3 separate regions of the Homo sapiens genome follow, and all the other regions are linked to region 1. Evidence: fine-mapped expression QTL. A gene starts in region 1. Each other region holds a variant in brackets. All regions are shown on one strand. Distances are between the middles of the regions.

Evidence for each region.
Region 2: its variant is fine-mapped to the expression of COQ6 in aorta (GTEx, PIP 0.94).
Region 3: its variant is fine-mapped to the expression of COQ6 in sigmoid colon (GTEx, PIP above 0.99).

What each region holds. Positions count from the first base shown.
Region 1 is chr14:73,945,969-73,954,137 of GRCh38, forward strand. It overlaps COQ6 (coenzyme Q6, monooxygenase), which reads left to right and starts at 4,334. Exons shown (of 12, transcript NM_182476.3): 1 at 4,334-4,527; 2 at 7,467-7,601. The coding sequence starts at 4,365. It overlaps FAM161B (FAM161 centrosomal protein B), which reads right to left and starts at 4,126. Exons shown (of 9, transcript NM_152445.3): 1 at 4,005-4,126; 2 at 318-637. The coding sequence starts at 4,058. RefSeq lists enhancers at 4,016-5,016, 4,033-4,092 and a silencer at 6,086-6,384.
Region 2 is chr14:73,811,481-73,819,660 of GRCh38, forward strand. No RefSeq gene overlaps it. Among named protein-coding and RNA genes, the nearest start is that of LINC02274, 15 kb to the right of the region's middle. The variant T/C (reference allele first, on the strand shown) is at 4,328.
Region 3 is chr14:73,998,673-74,006,852 of GRCh38, forward strand. The region is part of intron 3 of ENTPD5 (ectonucleoside triphosphate diphosphohydrolase 5 (inactive)); the gene reads right to left. It also overlaps the pseudogene RPL41P4. Among named protein-coding and RNA genes, the nearest start is that of ENTPD5, 17 kb to the right of the region's middle. The variant C/T (reference allele first, on the strand shown) is at 3,238.

The DNA.
Region 1 (8,169 bases):
TGACCTCAAGTGATCCGCCTGCCTCAGCCTCCCAAAGTGCTGGAATTACAGGTGTGAGCCCCTGCACCTGAGGAAAGGCTGCCCTTTAATTAATTCCAGTGCATCACTGGACTAAGTGTTGCCCAAAGTAATTCAGGATTCCTGGGGAGGAATCAGAACACCTGTTTGGAACCAAAAGCTGATTCTCAGCTAGAGCCTCAGTAAATGGCAACTTGCAGAAGTGCTCTTTGCTTTACAGAGGAAGATGAAGCCCAGAGACACGATGTGACCTGTGTGGAGGTGTGGAGTGAGGCAGCCGTGGAGCTGCAGTGCCTTACCTCAGAGCCTGCGGGCACTGGACCTGCACCATCCCCCTGTCCTTGTCTTGGAAGAAACTCTCCAGGTCCTCCTCATCTTCAGAGAGGTTTTCATCACTCTCTGGGTCAGACTGAAAGAGAGACTCCAACAGACACCATCTCCCTTTCTGCTTCAGTTCCTGTAAGTTCTGGTAAATGCTCCCAGTTGAGTCAGAAGTAGAATCTATCTCCTCCTCTGGGCTGAGGAACTCGTCAAGTTTGCTGGCCCTGGGCAAAACCAGCCCATCCCCGGACAGCTCCTCTCCTGCCTCTGTGTCTGCGAAGGACTCGGGGGGAAATATCTAAAATAGAATAGAAATAGGCTGTGGGTCAAACAATAATTTCAAAGGTATTCAAATCATAACTTAATTTCGCTTTGAATAAGCTTCTGTATATTAGGGACTGGGGAGAATTTGGGGTCTGCCAGATGCACTGGCTCACACCTGTAATCCCAACACTTTGGGAGGAATTTTTAAAAATAAGGTGTGTTTCTTGGTCTAAAGAAATTTCACAACTTGGTCTATGAAGTGCGCTTGGTTGAAGGGATGGAGAGGGAAGTGAAGAGCTGAAGTTGGTTCCCTATGCCATACAGTGCAGTAAGCTTTTACAGAGTACCTCACCTACACCAGGCTTTCTGACCCCTGCACTCCAGGAATCCTGCCCATGATGATGGCCACACTCTCCCTTACTTGGGTTTTAACCTACTTCTTGCTCATCTTCCTTCTCTCCCTTCCCTTATTTCTACTCCTCTGCTTTCCTCATGTTCTAGCTAATTTGCACTCTGTCAAGGAATGGATGATGGCTGGGTGCAGTGGCTCATGCCTGTAATCCCAGCATTTTGGGAGGCCGAGGGAGGTGGATCACCTGAGGTCAGGAGTTCAAGACCAGCTTGACCAACATGGTGAAATCCCGTCTCTACAAAAATACAAAAATTAGTTGGGCGTGGTGGCGGGTGCCTGTAATCTCAGCTACTGGGGAGGCTGAGGCAGGAGAATCGCTTGAACCCGGGAGGCGGAGGTGGCAGTGAGATGAGATTGCGCCACTGCACTCCAGCCTGGGCAACAAGAGTGATGCTCCGTCTCAAAAAAAAAAAAAAAAAAAGGAATGGATGATTAACAAGACAGACAGTATGGTCTGGCTGGAAGAGCAATGTCTTAAGAAGTGGGACACACAATTAACTTTTTCAGTACTCCATTCATTCATAAAATATTTACTGGGTGCCTGATGTGCACTGGGCATTTGGCTGAGAACAAGACAAACAAGGTCCTTACTCTCATGAAGCTTACACTGTAGTAAGAGGAGACAGACAATATAAGATGATGATAAATTCTGTGAAAACCATAAACAACTGTGAGGTTATAAAAAGATGGAGTGCCTATGGAAAGCTTTTTGGTTGATAAAGTCCATCAGATTAAGGTTATTAGGAATGTACTTGTAATCAGTACATCAGTTAGGCTTATTAACTTGCTGCAGGACACTACGGAAAACCACAGGGAACTTAGGGTTGAGGGTGTGATTTTTATAGGGTTGGCTTCCCTGATTGATTCAGGGAACCAGGTATCAACTCTGGAATGGTGCTGTCATGAAGTGGGGACAATTTAGTTAAGCGAATGACTGAGCAATTTTTTTTTTTTGAGACAGGTTCTTGCTCTGTCACCCAGGTTCTGGAGTGCAGTGGTGCAATCATGCCTCACTGCAGCCTGAACCTCCTGAGCTCAGGTGATGATCCTCCCACCTCAGCCTCCCGAGTAGCTGGGACTACAGCACACACCATCACACCTGGCTAGTTTTTGTATTTTTTGTACAGATGGGGTTTCACCATGCTTCCCAGGCTGGTCTCCAACTCCTGAGCTCAAATGATCCGCCTGCCTTGGCCTCCCAAAGTGCTGGGATTACAGGCGTGAGCCATTGGGCCCCGCCCAACGGCAATACTTATTCAAAAGGTGAGAAGAATAAAGTAGGGTGGGTAAGTAATTGATCAGTAAGCCTTTTGGAAGAAGGGGTGTTAGTAATTTTGCACCTATGTTATGGCCCTGAGAGAAACACTGTTTCCTGATGCTCTTGCCGTTGGCATTATCTATGCCTATGACAGTCTGAGTTATACTTTCTCAGTCCTGGGCTGATTTTTATTTTTCATTGTGGAGGAATTTTGAATTGACACTTGATTGATGAGGAGCCAGGCTTACTAAAATCCAGGGTAAGAGTCAGAGATATGTATGCACCCTAGCCCTGGCTCTGCTACAGTGTGTGATCTTGGGCACGTTTTTTCTTTTCTTTTAAAGACAACTTTATTAAGACATAATTTCTATACAATATATTCACTCATTTAAAGTGTACAATTCAGTGGTTTTAGTATATACACAGAGTTGTGCAACTACCATCACAATTTTAGAACACCTTCATCGCCCTTAAAAGAAATGCCACACGCTTTAGTGGTCACTCCCTATTTCCCCTAACCCTCCACACCCCACCCCACCAGCCCTAAGCAACTGCCAATCTACTTTTTGCCTTTAATAGTTTGGGGTCCACCAGGTGCACTGGCTCACGCCTGTAATCCCAGCACTTTGGGAGGCCTTGGCTGGTGGATCACTGGAGGCACGCGCCACCACACCTGGCTAATTTTTTTTTTTTTTTGAGACGGAGTCTCGCTCTGTCGCCAGGCTAGAGTGCAGTGGTGCAATCTTGGCTCACTGCAACCTCCACCTCCCGGGTTCAAGTGATTCTCCTGCCTCAGCCTCCCGAGTAGCTAGGACTACAGGCGCGCACCACCATGCCCAGATAATTTTTTGTATTTTTTTGTTTGTTTGTTTTTGTTTTTGAGAGAGTTTTGCTCTTGTTGCCCAGGCTGGAGTGCAATGGCACAATCTCGGCTCACTGCAACCTCCACCTCCCAGGTTCAAGCAATTCTCTTGCCTCAGCCTCCCGAGTAGCTGGGATTACAGGCATGTGCCACCACGTCCAGCTAATTTTGTATTTTTTTTAGTAGAGACAGGGTTTCTCCATGTTGGTCAGGCTGGTCTTGAACTCCTGACCTCAGGTCCCAAAGTGCTGCATTACAGGAGTAAGCCACCGCACCCGGCCAATTTTTGTATTTTTAGTAGAGACGGGGTTTTGCCATGGAAACCAGCCTGGTCTCGATCTCTTGACCTCATGATCCGCTTTCCTTGGCCTCCCAAAGTGCTGGGATTACAGGCGTGAGCCAGCGCGCCTGGCCAATTTTTTTTTTTTTTTTAAATTTTTAGACGGAGTTTCACCATGTTGGCCAGGCTGGTCTCGAACTCCTGACCTCAGGTGATCCACCCGCCTCGGCCTCCCAAAGTGCTAGGATTACAGGCGTGAACCACCACGCCCGGCCAAATTTGGGGAGCAATTTTCTTAATCTCTTTGTGCCTCAGTTTTCTCTTCTACAAAAATGAGACGACAATTGTACTACTGGTCATAGAGTACTAAGAGGATAAGCGAAAACTGAGTGACATTGCCTATCAAGAGCCTCGTATAAAGTCCGAGAGGTTCAGGTCTGTAAGTCAGAGTCCGCCTCCTGGTCCCTAAACGCTCATTTTAATCCCACGCCCCTCCGTGACACGCCCCTGCTGTCTGTCTCCAAGGCAACGCCCAACAGTTTCCTCTCCGGGATTCCTTTCCCGGGGGCAGTCTCTTTTCTCTCCTCACCTGACGGCTCCCCTCCGCGCCTCCGGGGGCTCCCTCAGGCCTCCCCACGGTCATTTCAGCTGGACAGAGGCAGCAGCGACAGTGACAGCGATAGTGGCAGCAGCGGTGGCAGCGAGAGCTATGCGGGGCCAGGGTCCACCCCTTTCTAGCTTTGGCGTCTGGTTGGCTTCCAGGGCAGCCTCCGATCCATCCCGCCCGAGGAGGCAAGGTTCGTTTTCCGATTGGCCTATTTTCTCCGCGCATTTTATTTCCGGTTCTGAGGACGCCGCGGAAGCGGGACGGGATTGGAGTGCTCTGCTCCGGACGCACTACGTAGGTGGGCCTGCGGGAGTTCTGAGTGCGACGGCGCAGGTCTGCACCATGGCGGCCCGGCTTGTCAGCCGATGCGGGGCTGTGCGTGCAGCTCCCCACAGCGGCCCGCTGGTGTCCTGGCGCAGGTGGTCCGGCGCCTCAACAGACACCGTGTATGACGTGGTGGTGTCGGGTGGAGGCCTGGTGGGCGCTGCCATGGCCTGTGCCTTGGGTAAGCCCTTCTCCAGGCTACTAGTGGCCGGAAACCGGGCCGCGGAGGCACGATGAGAGCCGTGAGAGCCCTAGCACGACTTGCCCAAAGACAATTTCTCAGGTCTCGCGACGCTTCTCCCCTCCCCTCCTAGAGGAACCCCAGGGCACGCCGGAATGCGTGTGGTCCTTCAGGGTCCATTAGGGTCAAAAGTGGGAGGGGCGTTCAGAGTCTGTTCTACTCATGGGAAAACAGGCCTTCCCGGGGTTATTTATAAATGAGAGTTCCAGTTTCTCCAGATCCTGGACAGTACTTGTCATTGTCTTTTTGTTTATAGACATTCTAGTGGGTGTAAGTAAAGTGGGATCTCCAGGTTTTGACTTGTATTTCCCTAATGATTAATGATGTTGAATATCCTTTCATATGTTTATTGGTCATTTGTATATCTTCTTTAGAGAAATGCCTATTCAGACCCTTTGCCCGGTTTTTAATTGAGCAGTTTGTCTCTTGAATACTGTGGTAAGAGTTATTTTTATTTTTTGAGACAGGGTCTTCCGCTGTGCCCAGGCTGCAGTGCAGTGGCACGATCACGGCTCACTGTAGCCTCAACCTCCCTGGCTGAATTGATCCTCCTGCCTCTGCCTCCCAAATAGCTGGGACTGCAGGAATGCGCCACCACTCGGCTGATTTTTGTATTTTTTTGTAGAGACGAGGTCTCACTATGTTGCCCAGGCTGGTCTGGAACTTCTGGGCTCAAGCAATCCACCTGCCTCAGCCTCCCAAAGTGCTGGGATTACCGGCATAAGCAACCCTGCCTGGCCATTATTTTGTTTATTCTGTATAAGTCCCTTATCTGATAAATGACTTGCAAATATTTTCTTCCATTTTGTAGTCTTTTCACTTTTTTTTTTTTCCCTGAGATGGAGTTTCGCTCTTGTTGCCCAGGATGGAGTACAATGGCACGATCTCAGCTCACTGCAACCTCTGGGATTACAGGCTTGTGCCACCATGCCTGGCTAATTTTTGTATTTTTAGTAGAGACGGGGTTTCACCATATTGGCCAGGCTGGTCTCGAACTCCTGATCTCGTGATCCACCTGCCCCTTCCTCCCAAAGTGCTGGGATTACAGGCATGAATCACCATGCTTGGCCCATTATGAGATTTTTTTTTTGTGATTTTTTTTTTTTTTTTAGCTCATCAGCTATCATTAATATTAGTGTTTTTTTATATGTGACCCAAGACAATTCTTCCACTGTGGCCTGGGGAAGCCAAAAGATTGGACACCCTGATCTAAGGGCAGCTGTTCCACCCTATGATCCTCATCTCACAAGATACACAAAATTTAACTTAAAGCAGATCATAGACTTCTGTAACAGGGTGGTTCTCATGGCTGCTTGGGAGGCTGAGGCAGGAGAATCGCTTGAAACTGGAAGGGGGAGGTTGCAGTGAGCTGAGATCGCGCCACTGCACTCCAGCCTGGGCAACAAGAGCGAAACTCGATATCTCAAAAAAAAAAAAAAAAAAAAAAGAAGATAGTGCCCTTTACAGAGCATGCTCTACAGAGCATGTCCCTGTGCCCCATCCTCCACAGCAAAAGCTGCCAAGATGGACCGCTCACTGTCTGTATGGCTGGAGCTAACTTTTTTTTTTTTTTTTTTTTTTTTTGAGACAGAGTCTCTGCTCTGTCACCCAGGCTGGAGTGCAGTGGCAGGATCCCAGCTCACTGCAACCTCTGCCTCCCAGGTTCCAGTGATTCTCCTGCCTCAGCCTTCTGAGGAGCTGGGACCACAGGCGCCCGCCATCACACCTGGCTAATTTTTGTGTTTTTAGTAGAGATGGGGTTTCACCATGTTGCCCACGCTGGTCTTGAACTCCTGAGCTCAACTGATCCATCACCTCAGTCTCCCAAAGTGCTGGGATTATAGGTGTGACCCACTGTGCCTGACCTTTCTTTCTTTTCTTTTCTTTTTTGTAGTTTTTGAGACAGGGTTTTGCTCTGTCCCCCAGGTAGGACTGCAGTTGCACAAACATAGCTCAGGTGTGCCACCATGCCTGGCTAGTTAAAAAAAATTTTTTTTTGTAGAGACAGGGTCTCGCCATGTTGCCCAGGCTGGTCTTGAATTCCTAGGCTTGAGCAATCCTCCCACCTCGGCCTCCCAAAATGCTGAGATTACAGGCGTTAGCCACCATGCCTGGCTCACGTTTTCTTTTATAAACTCTAATTCTTTCTTTTTGAGACAGAATTTTGCTCTTGTTGCCCTGGCTGGAGTGCAGTGGTGCAATCTCCTCCTCCCAGGATCAAGCGATTCTCCTGCCTCAGCCTCCCAAGTAGCTGGGATTACAGGTGCCCGCCATCACACCTGGCTAATTTTTTTGTATTTTTAGTAGAGACGGGTTTCACCATGTTGGCTAGGCTGGTCTTGAACTCCTGACCTCAGGTGATCTGTCCACCTCGGCCTTCAAAGTGCTGGGATTACAGGTGTGAGCCACCGCACCGGCCTTTATAAACTCTAATTCTTTATTCTTGGTTTAATCTTGAGACTGCATTGAATTTTGCTTGTTTATTCCACTTTTTCTTTTGAACAGGAGTTGTAATTTTTAGTGACTTAATACTCTGGAGATTGAAAAGAACTGGTGTTTAAATACTGTAGTCTAACTTTTTTACTTCATTTTTCCTTTCTAGGGCATTCTGTTTGCTAGTTAGGTGTTTGCCATTATTTGCTTCTTGGCACGTGGCATGTAGTGGTCTTTGGAGAAGTCTTACAGTTGTGGGCAGGGTGGTTCTCATAGCTAAAATGGTGGTATATGTTATTGCTTAGGACTCTGCATGGGTATAGTGTTTATGTTCTCTGTAAGAAATTCATATTCTAAGGGTTAAGTGGTTACTCTGTTGTTTCTCTTGGTAATGGGAAAGGAAATTCTTGATTTTCCTAAGATGATATAAATTTTCTTTTTTTAAGGATATGATATTCACTTTCATGACAAGAAAATCCTGTTGCTCGAAGCAGGTCCAAAGAAAGTACTGGAGAAATTGTCAGAAACTTACAGCAACAGGGTCAGCTCCATTTCCCCTGGCTCTGCAACGCTTCTCAGTAGTGAGTAGAAGATCCTCCTTCAAAGATCCAATCTCCTTTCCCACTTAGCTTTCTAGTGTATCCCATGGGGCAGAGTCATCAGAGCATCTGACAAGGAGGGAGCTCACTGAGGTGGGTGGAGAGAGGGGGTGGGATTGGTAGTCTAGGGCAGAGTTGAAGATGTGGACCCCTGCAGTTGCTACTGCCTCAACTCCCTGTCTGAGGAATGCATCCTTGAGGCATGTGGGTCCATCATGTTGACTTCACTTGTGATGTTGTGTCATTATGAATTGGTGGAACTGAAATCATATGAACTAATCATGAACATTCACTTTGAATAGCAGGGCTCTCTTCATCCTGAGTCAAGCCTTCTAGCAAGCTAGGGAGCTTACACGTGAAATTCCCTTGGGGTGCAGATGAATAATGTGTGCACATGGAACCAGTTAGCAAATTGTCATTAGGTCTGCTAGATGTTTCCCTCAGACCATCCTGTCTGAAACCACCCCATCTCAAATTGAACTCTTCCATCACTTTCTAGCCCCTTTCCCTGCTCTATTTTTCTTCATAATGCTTACTACTACCTGGCATT
Region 2 (8,180 bases), 130 kb before region 1:
CACCCCTTTAGCTTCTTTATCCATCTATTTGCACAGGGCAAATTCTAGAAGTCATTTTTCATTCTTCCTTTTCCCTCATCCCACACATCCAGCCCATCACCATGTTTAGTCAGTTATATTAAATACCTCTTGTCTCTACCTCACTTTTCTTTACATTTCCGCAGACACATTCTTAGTCTAAGCCACCCTCATTTTTCCCCTGGACAACTGAAAAAGCCTCTTTAGTGGCCTCCCTGCTTCACAACAGTCCCTCCCAAATACATTCTCCACCAGAAGTGAGAATGAACACTTCAAAAATGTAATTTGGGGCCAGGTGCAGCGGCTCATGCCTGTCATCCCAGCACTTTGGGAGGCCGAGGCGGGCAGATCACTTGAAGTCAGGAGTTCGAGACCAGCCTGGCCAACATGGCGAAACCCTGTCTCTACTAAAAATACAAAAATTTGCGGGGCATGGTGGCAGTCCTAGCTACTCGGGAGGCTGAGGCATGAGAATCACGTGAATCCAGGAGGCGGAGGTTGCAGTGAGCCAAGATCGCACCACTGCACCCCAGCCTGGGCAACAGAACAAGGCGCTGTCTCAAAAAAAAAAAAAAAAGTAATTTGGTGATATATAGTCATTGTCTCATTAAAGGGGTATTTATTGAGTGTCTGCTATTGTGCTATGTATCAGACAGTGAACAAGTCTCTGCTCTTGAGAAGCTTACAGTCTCATGCTGAGAGACAAGCAATAAACATAATTAAATTCATATGTTAGAAGGTGATAACCGCATGGAAAAAAGTAGATCAGGTAAGGGGATCTCAGGGAACATAGGTCTATGTGTTTGTTGCAGGGGGTTGTAATTTTAAATTGGGGAGTAGGAAATGTTTGATCTCTAAATATCATTTCCTACTAAAAGAGTTCCTAAGAGAAATGTCTAATTCCATGCCAGAGCTAAGAAATGCTTAAGATGATTCTGGAACATCTTGTTACACCAGAAAGCAAAGAACCTAACAAAGACCGTTGGGGTGGCATCAAAAGGACCCAATAGCCAAGTTCAAGAGACTCTCATTGGCCAAATATGGAACAATTTGAGTGTCTGAAAGAATAACAACTGCAATGGGTCAAAATATATACATGTCAAAATACCTGAGTTCGGCCTGGCGTGGTGGCTCACACCTGTAATCCCAGCACTTTGGGAGGCTGAGGCAGGCAGATCACCAGGTCAGGAGATCGAGACCATCCTGGCTAACATGGTGAAACCCTGTCTCTACTAAAAATACAAAAATTAGCCGGGCATGGTGGCGGGCACCTGTAGTCCCAGCTACTTGGGACTACAGAATGGTGTGAACCCGGGAGGCAGAGGTTGCAGTGAGCCGAGATCGCACCACTGCACTCCAGCCTGGGCTACAGAGTGAGACCCCGTCTCAAAAAAAAAAAAAACGAAAAAAATCTGAGATCATAATGATACTTTTAAAGTCAAGAACACAACCCATTGGTCACTTTTGGCAAGTTCTAAGGAACCAATTAATTATTCTGAAAACTGGTAAAGAAAAGGACAGAGTTAAGCATGTAGCCTGCTTTCTCTGTATGAAAATAACCAAGGAATCCAAATAGTTGACAAGGAAAAGTTCCTCTTTATAGACATATTCCAGCTAAGAAATGAAGAAAAAAGATAGAATTAGAATATCATCATTTTACAGCCTCTAGGGAAATAATCAGTCTAGGCCATGATCATCAACAGCTTCTAACATCGCAAAAAGAGCGAGAGCCAGATATTCAGCTCCTGACGAATGGACACAATACATCTTGTGAAGTAGTTTGGGTTTCCAGATAAAACACACAATGTTTAGTTAAATTTGGATTTCAAATAAATATCAAATAAATTTTAGTATAAATATATCCCAAACGTTCCATGAGACATACATATGCTGAAAAATGTTCAAGGACCAGGCTGGGCATGGTGGCACACACCTGTAATCCTAGCACTTTGGGAGGCCGAGGTGGGCGGATCACGAGGTCAGGAGATCGAGACCATCCTGGCCAACATGGTGAAACCCCGTCTCTACTAAAAATATAAAAATTAGCTGGGTGTAGTGGCACGTGCCTGTAATCCCAGCTACTCAGGAGGCTGAGGCAGGAGAATCGCTTGAACCAGGGACTTGGAGGTTGCAGTGAGCTGAGATCACGCCACTGCACTCCAGCCTGGGCAACAGGGTGAGACTTTGTCTGCCCCCACCCCCCCAAAAAAAAAGTTCAGGGACCGGGCGCGGTGACTCACACCTATAATCCCAGCATTTTGGGAGGTCGAGGCAGGCAGATTGCTTGAGCCCAGGAGTTCAAGACCAGCCTGGGCAACATACCAAGACCTCACCTTTACAAAAAATTAAAAAAGTAGCCGGGCGAGGTGGTGCGCACCTGTGGTCCCAGCTTCCTGGGAGGCTGAGGTGGGAGGATCGCTTGAGCCTGGGAGGCAGAGGTTGCGGTGAGCCGAGATCGCCACTGCACTCCTGCCTGGGCAATACAGCAAGACTCTATTAAAAAAAAAAAAAAAAGCTCATTATCTGAAATTAAAACTTAACTGGGCATCTTGTATTTTTATTTACTAAGCCTGGCAACCCTAAAAGTAGTGTGGCCAAAATAATCACACGTGAACCCACTTTAACCTCAAAATCTAACTACTACGAAATACAGCAATATTGTGATCAGCAACATTCAGACTGTGAGAAACTTTGTCCTGCAGAACAGACCAGTCAACTTTTTCAACACGTAGAAAAAGAGAGAGAGAAAAAGAGACGGAATTTGGTTTAGATTCTGATTCAGTAAATCAAGGGTAGGTGCAGCCACTACAAAAATTAGTCTGGCTTCTGAGAATCGCCCTTCCTCTGACTCCAGGCTTCCCCTGGGCTTTCACGTCATAGTGCAGCAACACCAAACCACTTTGAATTGAGGCCCCTTAGAGGCAATCTTGAGAGATGCTTGGGGCCAAGTCTTGTTTCACTAAACCAGGTTACAAGTGGAGGGGTGATGTGAGGAGGGGAGAAAAAGCTAAGATCTTAGTTTTTGGGATGGGATGAGATGAGAGCTGAGGTGCAGCAACTGCAATGGGAGAGGGCACTTTGGGGAAGGAAGCAGAGATGTTTTTAAAAGGCGATGATTGGGAAGTTTTGTTGGTGATGTGTGATGTCTGCCCCTCCTTTTCCTGCTCATGCCTTTGGAGCGGGTAATTTGGATGCTGGGCTGGATCTACAGGGCTTAGAAGTGTGGTTGAAGGCTGAGTGTGGTGGCTCACGCCTGTAATCCTAGCGCTTTGGGAGGCCAAGGTAAGTGGATCACTTGAGGTCAAGAGTTCGAGACCAGCCTAGCTAACATGATGAAACCCTGTCTCTACTAAAAATACAAAAATTAGCTGGGCATAGTGGCACAGGCCTGTAGTTTCAGCTACCCGGGAGGCTGAGGCAGGAGAATCACTTGAACCTGTGAGGCAGAGGTTGCAGTGAGCCAAGATCCTGCCACCGCACTCCAGCCTGGGCGACAGAGCAAGACTCCATCTCAAAAAAAAAAAAAACCATGCCAGGTGCAGTGGCTCATGCCTGTAATCCCAGCACTTTGGGAGGCCGAGGCAGGCGGATCACGAGGTCAGGAGTTCGAGACCACCCTGGCCAACATGGTGAAACCCGGTCTCTACTAAAAATATAAAAATTAGCTGAGCATGGTGGCGGGCGCCTGTAATCCCAGCTACTTGGGAGGCTGAGGCAGGAGAATTGCTTGAACCCAGGAGGCAGAGGGTGCAGTGGGCCGAGATCGTGCCATTACACTCCAGCCTGGGCAACAGAGCAAGACTCCGACTCAATCAAAAAAAAAAAAAAAAAAAGAGGAAGAAGGGTGGACGAAGAAGTCATGGCTACCTTCAGGCCATATCACACCAGATTCTATTTAGATCTGTCTCCCTGCCATGAACCCCTCAAGGGCACAGACTGTGTTTCCAGCTTCAGATTTCCTATTGCCTATTAAAGTGTCTGTCACTTCATACATATCTGGTGAATAAATGAATGAATGAATGAGTGAATAAAGCCTCCTGATTTGCAGAGATGGTGGTCTTCTGATATAACAAATTGTGCTCATCAGATATACAATTGCCTTATGGAACACTGAATTTAACCTTTGCTATGTCCACACACCAGGAAGGAATATTCTAGACTTAGCAACTAGGCTCAGGCTGGGCATTGTGGCTCACACTTGTAACCCCAGCACTTGCAGAAGCTGGCATGGGAGAATCACTTGAGCCCAGGAGTTTGAGAACAGCCTGGGCCACATGGCGAGACCTTGTCTCTACAAAAAATAAAAAAT[T/C]AGCCGGGTGTGGTGGCATGTGCCTGTAGTCCCAGAAACTTGGGAGGCTGAGGTGGGAGGATGGCTTGAGTCTGGGAGGTTGAAGCTGCAGTGAGTCGTGGTTGTGCCACTGCACTCCTGCCTAGGCAATAGGGCAAGACCCTGTCTCAAAAAAGAAAAAGAAGAAAAGAAAGAAAGAAAGGAAAGGAAGGAAGGAAGGAAAGAAGGAAGGAAGGCGAAGGAAGGAGAAGGAAAGAGAAGGAAAGGAAAAGAAAGAAAGAAAGGAAAGAAAAGAAAAGAAAAAATGCACAGAACATATTTGGACAATTTAACAAATAATTACAAAGCAGCTCTCTGTGTAACCAACACTTGCGTCAAGAAATAGTAATGACCGGGTATGGCAGTTCATGCCTGTTATCCCAACACTTGGGGAGGCCGAAGTGGGAGGATTGCTTGAGCCCAGGAGTTAAAGACTGCAGTGAATTATGATTGCACCACTGCACTCCAGCCTGGGTGGCAGAGCGAGACCCTGTCTCAAGAAAAGAAAAAGAGAGAGAGAGAGGGAGGGAGGAAGGGAGAGAGAGAGAGAGAGAGAGAGAAAAGAAAAGAAAAGAAGGAAAGTAGGTTCAGTTCACTGGGTCAGAAGCCCTGGAGTCACTTTCCCAGGCATCTTGAGACGCTTTCCTATGTGAATGGAAAGCCCAGCTTGCTTTCTGTTTTCTCTTGCAGTTCAGCTTTGTGAGTGTCTGTAGTGTATGTGTCTTGTGATGTGTTATGGGAGCTGTGATGAGGCTTACATCACAACCAGAAGATGACCTTGGAAGGAGAACCCTGGACAAGGCAGGAAAAATAATGAGGGCAATCAAGAGTCTGGAAAGCCCTGGCAGCTATGAAAGGTTTGAGCCATGCACCAGTCACCATCTGTGTACTCAAGAGAAAGAAAGAAGAGATGAAAGATACCGCTCCCTTCACCCCGCGCCTCTATCTAGAGGAAAGAATAACACAAAGAAAAAAAAACATGAGAGAAAGGCTGCCTCTTGAGAACCCTGGGCTTGACTTAAAAGGTTCTCCTTCTATGACCATGACGTAATAAGTCATTTTTTATATCTGAATAACATTGTTCTTCTACAGCATCATCTTATGAGCTATAAATGTATCCCGTTGATACTGCCACTAAAATATTTTGGGTTTTTTTTCCTGAGGTTTTTAGAGGAAAAAATCAGGACTTAATCTTTTTTTTTCCTGCTTAATCATACATTTTATTCCTCAGACATGGTTCAGAAGGACTCTGGATGGTCCAAAAACTCATATTCGCCTGCAAAGGTGGAGGTTGTAACCACCGGGAACATGCTATGAGTTAGGCAGACATTATTCAGTGAGGAGGCCTAGAAAGGCATAGAGGCGGCAGCAGCACAGGTGCAGTAATGAGAAGGCGCCCCAGGCTGCAGACTCCGTGAGGGCAGAGACCATCCACCATTGACACACAGTAGGTGTGCTGTAAAGTTTGTTGAATGAATAAATGAAAGAAAGAGAAAGACTATCACATATATGGAAGTGTAAGTTCTTCAGTGTCTTTTAAAAACTAGAAAAAAGGGCTGGGTGCAGTGGCTCATGTCTGTTATCTCCCTTAACAGGAGGATTGCTTGAGGCCAGGAGCTTAAGACCAGCCTGGGCAAAAAATTGAGACCCATCTCTATAAAAAAATTAAAAAATTAGCTGGGTGTGGTGGTGCACATTTGTAGTCCCAGCCAGCTACTCGAGAGGCTGAGGTGGGAGGATCACTCGAGTCCACAAGTTTGACACTGCAATGAGCTGTAATCACCCCACTATACCTAAGCCTGGGTGGACAGACTGAAACCTTATCTCCAAAATATATATATATGTGTATATATATATGTATATGTGTATATATATATATGTGTGTGTGTGTGTGTGTGTGTGTATATGTATGTATGTATATATATATATACTGGGTGCAGTGGTTCATGCCTGTAATCCCAACACTTTGGGAGGCTTTGGGAGGCTGAGACAGAAGGATTGCTTGAGCCCAAGAGTTCAAAACGAGCCTGGGCAACATATTGAGACCCTGTCTCTATTTCTATTTAAAAAAATAAAATTCTTTCTTTCTTTTTTTTTTTTTTTCTGAGACTGAGTTTCCTTGTGTCACCCAGGTTGGAGTGCAGTGGCGTGATCTCAGCTCACTGCAACCTCCGTCTCCCGGGTTCAAGTGATTCTCCTGCCTCAGCCTCCAGAGTAGCTGGGATTACAGGCACCTGCCACCATGCCTGGCTAATTTTTATGTTTTTAGTAGAGACGGGGTTTCGCCATGTTGGCCAGGATGGTCTCGAACTCTTGACCTCAAGTGATCCACCAGCCTTGGCCTCTCACAGTGCTGGGATTACAGGCATGAGCCACGGCGCCCAGCTACCCGCCCCCCCCAAAAAAATAATAATAATTTATTTCTTAAAAAAGTAAAAAAAACAGGCTGGGCATGATGGCTCACGCCTGTAATCCCGGCACTTTGGGAGGCCGAGGTGGGCAGATTAACTAAACTCAGGAGTTTGAGACCAGCCTGAGCAACACGGTGAAACCCCGTTTCTACTAAAATACAAAAAACTAACCAAACGTGGCAGCATGCGCCGGTAATCCCAGCTACTCGGGAGGCTGAGGCAGGATAATTGCTTGAACCCGGCAGACAGAGGTTGCAGTGAGCCGAGATCGTGCCACTGTACTCCTGCCTGGGAGACAGAGCGAGACTCCGTCTCTAAAAAAAAAGTAAAAAAAAAAAACAAAGCCCTGGAAAAAAGAAGCCCAATTTATCCATTAATTGAGTCTCACATAGGACCTGAAAATGACATTTCCAGGTGCTTCTCAAGGAAGCTGAGTCCATTTCACCAGAGTAAGAGGTCCTAGAGCCAGCACCAGACTCCATCAGGAAACCAGCACTCTCGGGAACAGCATTGGAATCCCAGGGAATTTAAAGGTATTTTTGTTGTTGTTGTTGTTCTTAATGGAAACAACCCTTCAAGTAAAGACTACAAACTTCTTTTGTGTGCAAGCTGATAGCGCCTCAGCTTTGGGACGCTGTGTTAGTTTTCCTGGGCTGCCATAACAAAATACAACAAACTGGGTGGCGTAAAACAACAGAAATTCATTGTCTCGCAGTTCTAGAGGCTACAGGTCCAAAATCAGGGTGTTGGCAAGGTCGCGTTTCCTCTGATAGAGGTCACGGAACCCTCCCTTGCCTCTTCCTAGCTGCTGGTAGTTTGCCTTGGCTTGCTGCAGAAGCAGTCCAGGCTCCCCGCGTCCTGTTCTCCCTGTGGGTCTCTGTCTTCACATGGCCATCTTCTTATGACACCAGTCATGTTGGATTAGGGGTCCATCCTACTCCAGTGTAACCTAACCTTACCTCATTACATCTGCAATGACCTATTTCCAAATGAGGTCAGACTCTGAGGTACTGGGTTAAGGGGTTAAAACTTCAATATATCTTTTTTTTTTTTTTTTTGAAACAGAGTCTTGCTCTGTTGCCCAGGCTAGGATGCAGTGGCACAATCTCGGCTCACTGCGACGTCCACCTCCCAGGTTCAAGCGATTCTCCTGCCTCAGCCTCCCAAGTAGCTGGGATTACAGGCTTGCACCACCACGCTCAACTAATTTTTGTATTTTTAAGTAGAGACAGGTTGGGAGCGGTGATTCACGCCTGTAATCCCAGCACTTTAGGAGGCTGAGGCGGGCAGATCACAAGGTCAGGAGTTCAAGACCAGCCTGGCCAACAGAGTGAAACCCCTAAACTCTACTAAACTCTACTAAAAATACAAAAAATTAGCTGGGCATGGCGGCAGGCACCTGTAATTCCAGCTACTCAGGAGGC
Region 3 (8,180 bases), 53 kb after region 1:
ATGATGGAGAAGGCTCTGTGAAAAAGGTCGTATCTGAGGAGGGTCCTGAGGAGGGAAATGAATTAGGACAGGCAAGGAGTGCTTTTCAGGAATAAAACCATGAATCAAGACACGGATGTGGAAAAGGGATGGGGGCCCCTGAGGAACAGTGAATGGATCAGTTTGACCAACTATAGTAGAAAATAAAGTTGAAGAGATAGATTGAGGTCACATAGTAGAGGACACCAAATACTCAGCTAAGGAGTTTGGACTTTACTCTGCAGGTGATAGGAAGCCACTGAAGATATTGAACTAGGGAGTATCCAAATACGAATCTGGTAGTTACATGTAAGGACTGCAGTCAGGAGCCTTGTCAGGACCACTCAATTGCTTAATTCTACTAATGCTTACTGATGCCTACTAACTGCTAGGTGCCAGAAAAGTAAAGGTGAGGAAAACAGATCTTTTTATTCAAGATGCTGAGTCTGGCAGAGGTGGCAGACATATATAAAAATAACCGTAACTTTTTAAACTAAGCATAAAAATGGTAAAGAAGCTAGGCGCAGTAGCTCACGCCTGTAATCCCAGCACTTTGGGAGGCCAAAGTGGGTGGATTACCTCAAGTTAGGAGTTCGTGACCAGCCTGGCCAACGTGGTGAAACCCCATATCTACTAAAAATACAAAAATTAGCCAGGTGTGGTGGCATGCGCCTGTAATCCCAACTACTCAGGAGACTGAGGAACGAGAATTGCTTGAACTCAGGACGCAGAGGTTGCAGTGAGCCAAGATCACAGGATTGCACCCCAGCCTGGGTGACAGAGTAAGACTCTGCCCCCCACCCCCCCAAAAAAAACAAAGGTAGGCCGGGCACGGTGGCTCACTCCTGTAATCCCAGCACTTTGGGAGGCCAAGGTGGGCGGATCATGAGGTCAGGAGTTTGAGACCAGACTGACCAACATGGTAAAACCGTCTCTACTAAATATACAAAAATTAGCCAGGCGCAGTGGCGCGTGCCTGTAATCCCAGCTACTCAGGAGGGTGAGGCAGGAGAATTGCTTGAACCTGGCAGGCGGAGGTTGCAGTGAGCCAAGATCAAGCCACTGCACTCTAGACTGGGCAACAGGGCGAGACTCCGTCTCAAAAAAAAAGGTAAAGGGCCGGGCGCAGTAGCTTACACCTGTAATCCCAGCACTTGGGGAGGCCAAGGCGGGCGGATCATGAGGTCAGGAGTTCCAGACCAGCCTGACCAACATGATGAAACCCCATCTCTACCAAAAATTTAAAAATTAGCCAGGCATGGTGGCATGCACCTGTAATCCCAGCTATTCAGGGGTCTGAGGCAGGAGAATCACTTGAACCCAGGGGGCGGAGGTTGCAGTTAGCCGAGGTCGCGTCACTGCACTCCAGCCTGGGCGACAGAGCGAGACTCCATCTCAAAAAAAAAAAAAAAAAAGGTAAAGGAACAAAAACACAGGACTAACTCCCTAGAGGATTTGGAAACGCATCAAGAAAAGACATTTGAGACCAGGCACAGTGGCTCACGTCTGTAATCCTAGCACTTTGGGAGGCCAAGGCAGGCAGATTGCTTGAGCTCAGGAGTTCGAGACCAGCCTGGGCAACATGATGAAACCTCATCTCCACCAAAAATACAAAAACTAGTCAGGCATGGTGGAATGCACCTGTAGTCCCAGCTATTTGGGAGGCTGAGGTGGGAGGATTGCTTGAGCCCCCTGGGAGGTGGAGGTTGCTGTGAGTTGAGATCGCACCACTGTACTCCAGCCTGGGTGACAAGACTGAACCCCGTCTCAATTTAAAAAATATATATATAAGCATATATAAAAGAAATGGCTGGGCACAGTGGCTCACGCCTGTAATCCCAACACTTTGGGAGGCCGAGGAGGGTGGATCACCTGAGGTCAAGAGTTCAGGACCAGCCTGGCCAATATGGTGAAACCCCATCTCTACTAAAAATACAAAAATTGTCCAGGCGTGGTGGTGTGCCTGTAATCCCAGCTACTCAGGAGGCTGAGGTGGGAGAATTGCTTGAACCTGGGAGGCGAGGCTGCAGGGAGCCGAGATCATGCCACTGCACTCCAGCCTGGGCAACAGAGCAAGAACCTGTCTCAAAACAACAACAAAAAAAATGAAATGACATGTAAGCAATCATGAAAAATGGACAGAAATAACTACAGAAATAATAGAGACCAGATGTGTATAAAGACCAGAGAGATTAGAAAAAGATGATAGGAAAAGTATCGTTTGATTTCATTTAAAAATTTCCTCAAGAGCCATATGGAGTGGCACGTGACCATAGTCCCAGGTACTCAGGAGGCTGAGGAAAGAGGGTCACTTCAGCCAAGGAGTGCAAGTCCAGCTTGGACAACACAGTGAGACCCTATCCGTATAAAAATTAAAAATAGCGAGGCCAGGTATGATGACTCATGCCTGTAATCCTAGCACTTTGGGAGGCCAAAGTGGGAGGATTGCTTGACCCCAAGAGTTTGAGACTAGCCTGGGCAACATAGTGAAATGCTATCTCTACAAAATATTAAAAAATTAGCAGGGTGTGTCTGGGCGCAGTGGCTCATGCCTGTAATCCCAGCACTTTGGGAGGCCAAGGCAAGCGGATCACGAGGTCAAGAGATCGAGACCATCCTGGTTAACACGGTGAAATCCCGTCTCTACTAAAAATACAAAAAATTAGCTGGGTGTGATGGCGGGTGCCTATAGTCCCAGCTACTCGGGAGGGTTAGGCAGGAGAATGACGTGAACCTGGGAGGCCGAGCTTGCAGTGAGCCGAGATTGCACCACTGCACTCCAGCCTGGGCAACAGAGCAAGACTCCATCCCAAAAAAAAAGAAAAAAATTAGCCAGGCATGGTGGCGGGCACCTGTAGTCCGAGCTACTCGGGAGGCTGAGGCAGGAGAATCGCTTGAACCTGGGAGGCGGAGGTTGCAGTGAGCCGAGATCATGCCACTACACTCCAGCCTGGCGAGAGAGCAAGACCTCATCTCAAAAAAAAAAAAAAAAAAAAAAAAAAAAAAAAAAAGCCAGGCATGGTGGTACACACCTGTAGTCTCAACTATTCAGGAGGCTGAGGTATGAGGATCATTTGAGCCTGAGAAGTGGAGGCTGAGGTGAACTGTGATTGCACGGCACCACTGTACTCCAGCCTATGCGACAGAGTGAGACCCTGTCTCAAATAATAATAATTAAAAGCCAATGTCCTCAAGAATTTTTTATATGAATTTGAGAAA[C/T]AAAAAGTAGAAAACTAGTGAAAGAGGATATAGAAGAAGAGGGTTAGCATTTAATGCAGAGGATAAAGATTGTGGTCAAAGAAACATAATCTGAGATTTTAAAAAAATAGTAACCAATATTTACGGAGATCTTAGTAGATGCCAAGCATGATGTTAAGTATTCTACATAGATTAGCTCATTTAATCTCACATTACTGCTCTGTGAGTTAGGTGCTATTATTAAGATTCCCATTTTATAAATGAGAAAACTGAGCTTAGAGAAACTAAGTATCTTAAGACCACATCGTAGTTAAATGAAATGAGCCAGAAATCAAACCCAGATGGTTTAATTCCAGAGCCACAGTCTTAACTAGTAGGCCACCCAAGAAGGATTATCTAACAGGGCTCTTGGAAAAGACAGATATGGGAGTGGGGAGGCGAGTGTAGAGCAGAGAATGGTCTGAGATGAGGCTGGAAAGTGAGACTTCCATCAGGATGTGAAAGTCTTACAGCAGTCTGACCTTCTTACATAAAATCAAGAGCTTATTTATTTATTTATGTAGAGATGGAGTCTCACTATGTTACCCAGGCTGGTCTTGAACTCCTGGCCTCATGCAATCCTCTAGCCTCAGCCTCCTGAATAGCTGGGATAACAGGGTTGAGCCACTGTGCCCAGCTAATCAAGAGATTTTGAAGATCTTAATTTCCTGCTGTTGAATACATTTCCAGAATCCGACCATTTCTGACCACTTCCATTGCTACCACCTTCGCCCAAGCCACTATCATCTTTCATGTGATTTGCTAATATTGTCCTAACAGATCTTCCTGCTTTTATCCTCACTCCCCTGGAGTTTGTCTCCTTTTAACAAACAACCAAAGTCATCCTTTAATATAAATTAGAGTATGTCTCTGTTTTATGCAAAATCCAGCACTGGCTCCCCATTTCAGAGAAACAAGGTCCTGAAAATAGCCTTCTGCTTCCATCCCCACTACATCTCTGACCCCATCTACTAATAGTTTTCACCTTACTCTCCCCCAACACTGACCTCTGCGCTTATTCACTCATGCCCCTGCCTTAGGGCCTTCGCTCTAAGCTGTCCCCACTGCCTAGAAATTCTTTTCCTATATATCCACTTGATGAATTCCTGCAACTCCTTCAAATACTTGTTTAAAAATCACTTTCTTATTGAGATCTACTTAATACTATAACCTCTCACCTTCACATGCTCCCACCTCTACCTGCTTTCTCAACTCCCCTTACTCTGATCCACTTTTCTTTTTTCCACACCACTTATCACATTCTAACATACTGGAAAGCTTACTGATATTTATTGTCTGTGTTCCTCTGATAGAATATAAGCTCCTCAAGAGCAGAAATCTTTTTGTTTACTGGTGTAACCCAAGAACCTAGAAGAGCGTCCAAGGTGGAATTCAATAAAAACTGACAATAGAAATGGGCTAGGGTTTCTCTCAGCCTTAGCGCCATTTTCTTGGAAACCTCTGCATCATGAGAGCTAAGTGGAGGAAAAAGCGAATGTGCAGTCTGAAGCACAAAAGAAGAAAGATGAGGCAGAGGTCCAAGTAAACCGCTAGCTTGTTGCACCGTGGAGGCCACACAGGAGCAGAAACATGGAATGCCAGATGCTGGGGATGCTGGTACAAGTTGTGGGACTGCATGCTATTGTGTAGAGCTTGTCTCAATGGATCCAGAACTTCACCGCCCTCTGATCGCTGATCACCTCTGAGACCCACCTTGCTCATAACCAAAACTGCCCATGTTGGTCCTCTGCCCTGGACCTGGGACATTCTGGACTATTTCTGTGTTTACTTGTGGCCGAGTATAACAACCATACGATAAATCATCTCTTCTGCTGTCTTAGCTGAAGAATCAAAAAAAAAGAAAAAGAAAAAAAGAAAAAAAAAATTGGCTGGGCATGGTGCCTCATGCCTGTAAATCCCAACACTTGGGAGGCTAAGGCAGGAGGATCACTGGAGCCCAGGAGTTTGAGACCAGCCTGGGCAACACAGCAAAACCCTATTAAAAAAAATTTTTTTTTAATGAAAAAATTAGCCAGGCATGGCAGTGCACACTTGCAGTCCCAGCTACTTGGGAGGCTGAGGCAGAAGGATCACTTAAGCCCAGGAGTTCGAAGCTGCAGTGAGCTAGAATCATGCCACTGCACTCCAGCATGGGTGACAGAGCAAGACCCTGTCTCAAAAAATAAATTAATTAAGTAAATAAATACATGTATTAAGCAATAAAAATATTTATTATCTCATCCCTTTTTTATTTTTTTGAGACAGAGTCTCCCTCTATTGCCCAGGTTGCAGTGCAGTGGCGTGATCTTGGCTCACTGCAACCTCTGCCTCCTGGGTTCAAGTGATTCTCCTGTCACAGCCTCCGAAGTAGCTGGGACTACAGGCACCCCCCACCACACCCGGCTAATTTTTGTATTTCTAGTAGAGACGGGGTTTCGCCATATTGGCCAGGCTCAAACTCCTGACCTCAGGTGATCCACCTGCGTTGGCCTCCCAAAGTGCTGAGATTACAGGTGTGAGCCATTGCGCCCGGCCTATCTCATTATTTCTGTGGTTTGGGACTCTGAGAGTGGTTTAATTAGACAGTTTTGGCTCTGAGGCTCTCATGAGATTGCAGTCAAGATGTAGGCTGGGGCTGCAGTCAATCTGAAGGCTTGACTAGGCCTGGAAGACCCACCTCCAAGATGGCTCACTCAATGGTTGGCAAGTTGATGCCAGCTGTGGGCAGGAAGTCTCAGTAGCTCCCCGTGTAGATCCTCCATAGGGCTGCTTGAATGTCTTTATAACCCAGTGGCTGGCTTCCTCCAGAGCAGTCAATCCAAGAAGAGCAGGGCAGAAGCAGTAATGTCTTTTATGACTTTGTTTTGGAAGTCATACACTATCATATCCCTATATTCTAATGCTCATACAGACCAACCCTGACGAACTGTAAAAGGGGACTACACAAAGGCATGAATATTAGGAGGTGAGCATCACTGGGGGGCATCTTGGAGGCTGGCTACTGTAAGCTGTAACCAGTATTTGTGTAATATTTTGTGGGGTTTTTTTTCCAGTATACCATATATATATTTCAATAAACACATCTTACATACTTCTTATTTTAGGACCTGCATGTTATTCCAATGATATTAACTGTTTTTGTTCATTTGTTTATTCTTAGAAAAAAATAATATATAGAAATAAGCCAGGTTAGCTGGGCATGATGGGACATGCCTGTAATCCCAGCTACTCGGGAGGCTGAGGCAGGAGAATTGCTTGAACCCGGGAGATGGAGGTTGCAGTGAGCTGAGATCGCACCATTGCACTCCAGCCTGGGCGATAGGGTGAGACTCAGTCTCAAAAAAAAAAAAAAAAGAAAAAAAGAAAAAAAGAAAAAAAGAAATAAACCAGGCGTGGTGGCTCATGCCTGCCTGGGTGAGAGAGCAAGACTCGGTCTCAAAAAAAAAGAAAAGAAATATAGGCAGGGTTTCACTATGTTTGTCAGATTGCTCTCAAACTCCTGGCCTCAAGCAATCCTCCACCTTGGCCTCTCAACATGCTAGGATTACAGGTGTGAGCCATCACATCGGCTGCTATTAACTCTTAAAAATGAACAACTGGCCAGGTGCGGTGGCTCACGCCTGTAATCCCAGCACTTCGGGAGGCTGAGGGGAGTGGATCACCTGAGGTCAGGAGTTCAAGACCAGTCTGGCCAACATGGTGAATCCCCATCTCTACTAAAAATACAAAAATTAGCTGGGTGTGTGGTGCACGCCTGTAATCCCAGCTACTTGGGAGGCTGAGGTAGGAGGATCGCTAGAACCCAGGAGGCAGAGGTTGCGGTAAGCTGAGATCATGCCACTGCACTCCAGCCTGGGAGACAGAGCAGGACTCCATTTCAAAAAAATAAATAAAAAACAAAACAAATAAACAAACAAAATGAACAACAATGCTGACTTGACTTTTAACTTCCATCTTCTGTTATAGTCCTAATATTTTACTTAAGGAAAAGAATTAAAGTCAGAAAAACTACAACTCACACAATGTACTTCTTGTTTCTAAAGGTGAAAAGAAATTTAAATACCTTTTTGTTTTTTTTGAGATGGAGTTTTACTCTTGTTCCCCAGGCTGGAGTGCAATGGCATGATCTTGGCTCACCACAACCTCTGCCTCCCAGGTTCAAGAGATTCTCCTGCCTCAGCCTCCAAAGTAGCTGGGATTACAGGCATACACCACCAAGCCCAGCAAATTTTGTATTTTTAGTAGAGACAAAGCGGGGTTTCTCCATGTTAGTCAGGCTGGTGATCATCTCAGGTGATCCACCTACCTTGGACTCCCAAAGTGCTGGGATTACAGGCATTAGCCACCTCGCCAAGCCTTTTTTTTTTTTTTTTTGAGACGGAGTCTCGCTCTGCTGCCCAGGCAGGAGTGCAGTGGCACAATCTCGGCTCACTGCAAGCTCCGCTTCCCGGGTTCACACCATTCTCCTGCCTCAGCCTCCCGAGTAGCTGGGACTACAGGTGCCCGCCGCCACGCCCGGCTAATTTTTTGTATTTTTAGCAGAGACGGGGTTTCACTGTGTTAGCCAGGATGGTCTCGATCTCCTGACCTCGTGATCCGCCCGCCTCGGCCTCCCAAAGTGCTGATATTACAGGTGTGAGCCACCACACCCGGCCCTTTTTTTTTTTTTTTTAAATGAGAAGATGTCTTGCTTTATCACCTAGGCTCAAGTGCAGTGGTGCAGACACAGCTCACTGCAACCTTCACCTCCTGAGCTCAAATGATCCTCTTGCCTTAGCCTCCTGACTAGCTAGACTACAGGAATGAGCCACCATGCCCAGTGAATTTTCAAATTTTTTATAGAGATGGAGTCTTGCTATGTTGCCCAGGCTGGTCTCAAACCCCTGGCTTCATGAGATCCTCCCACCTCAGTCTCCCAAAGCATT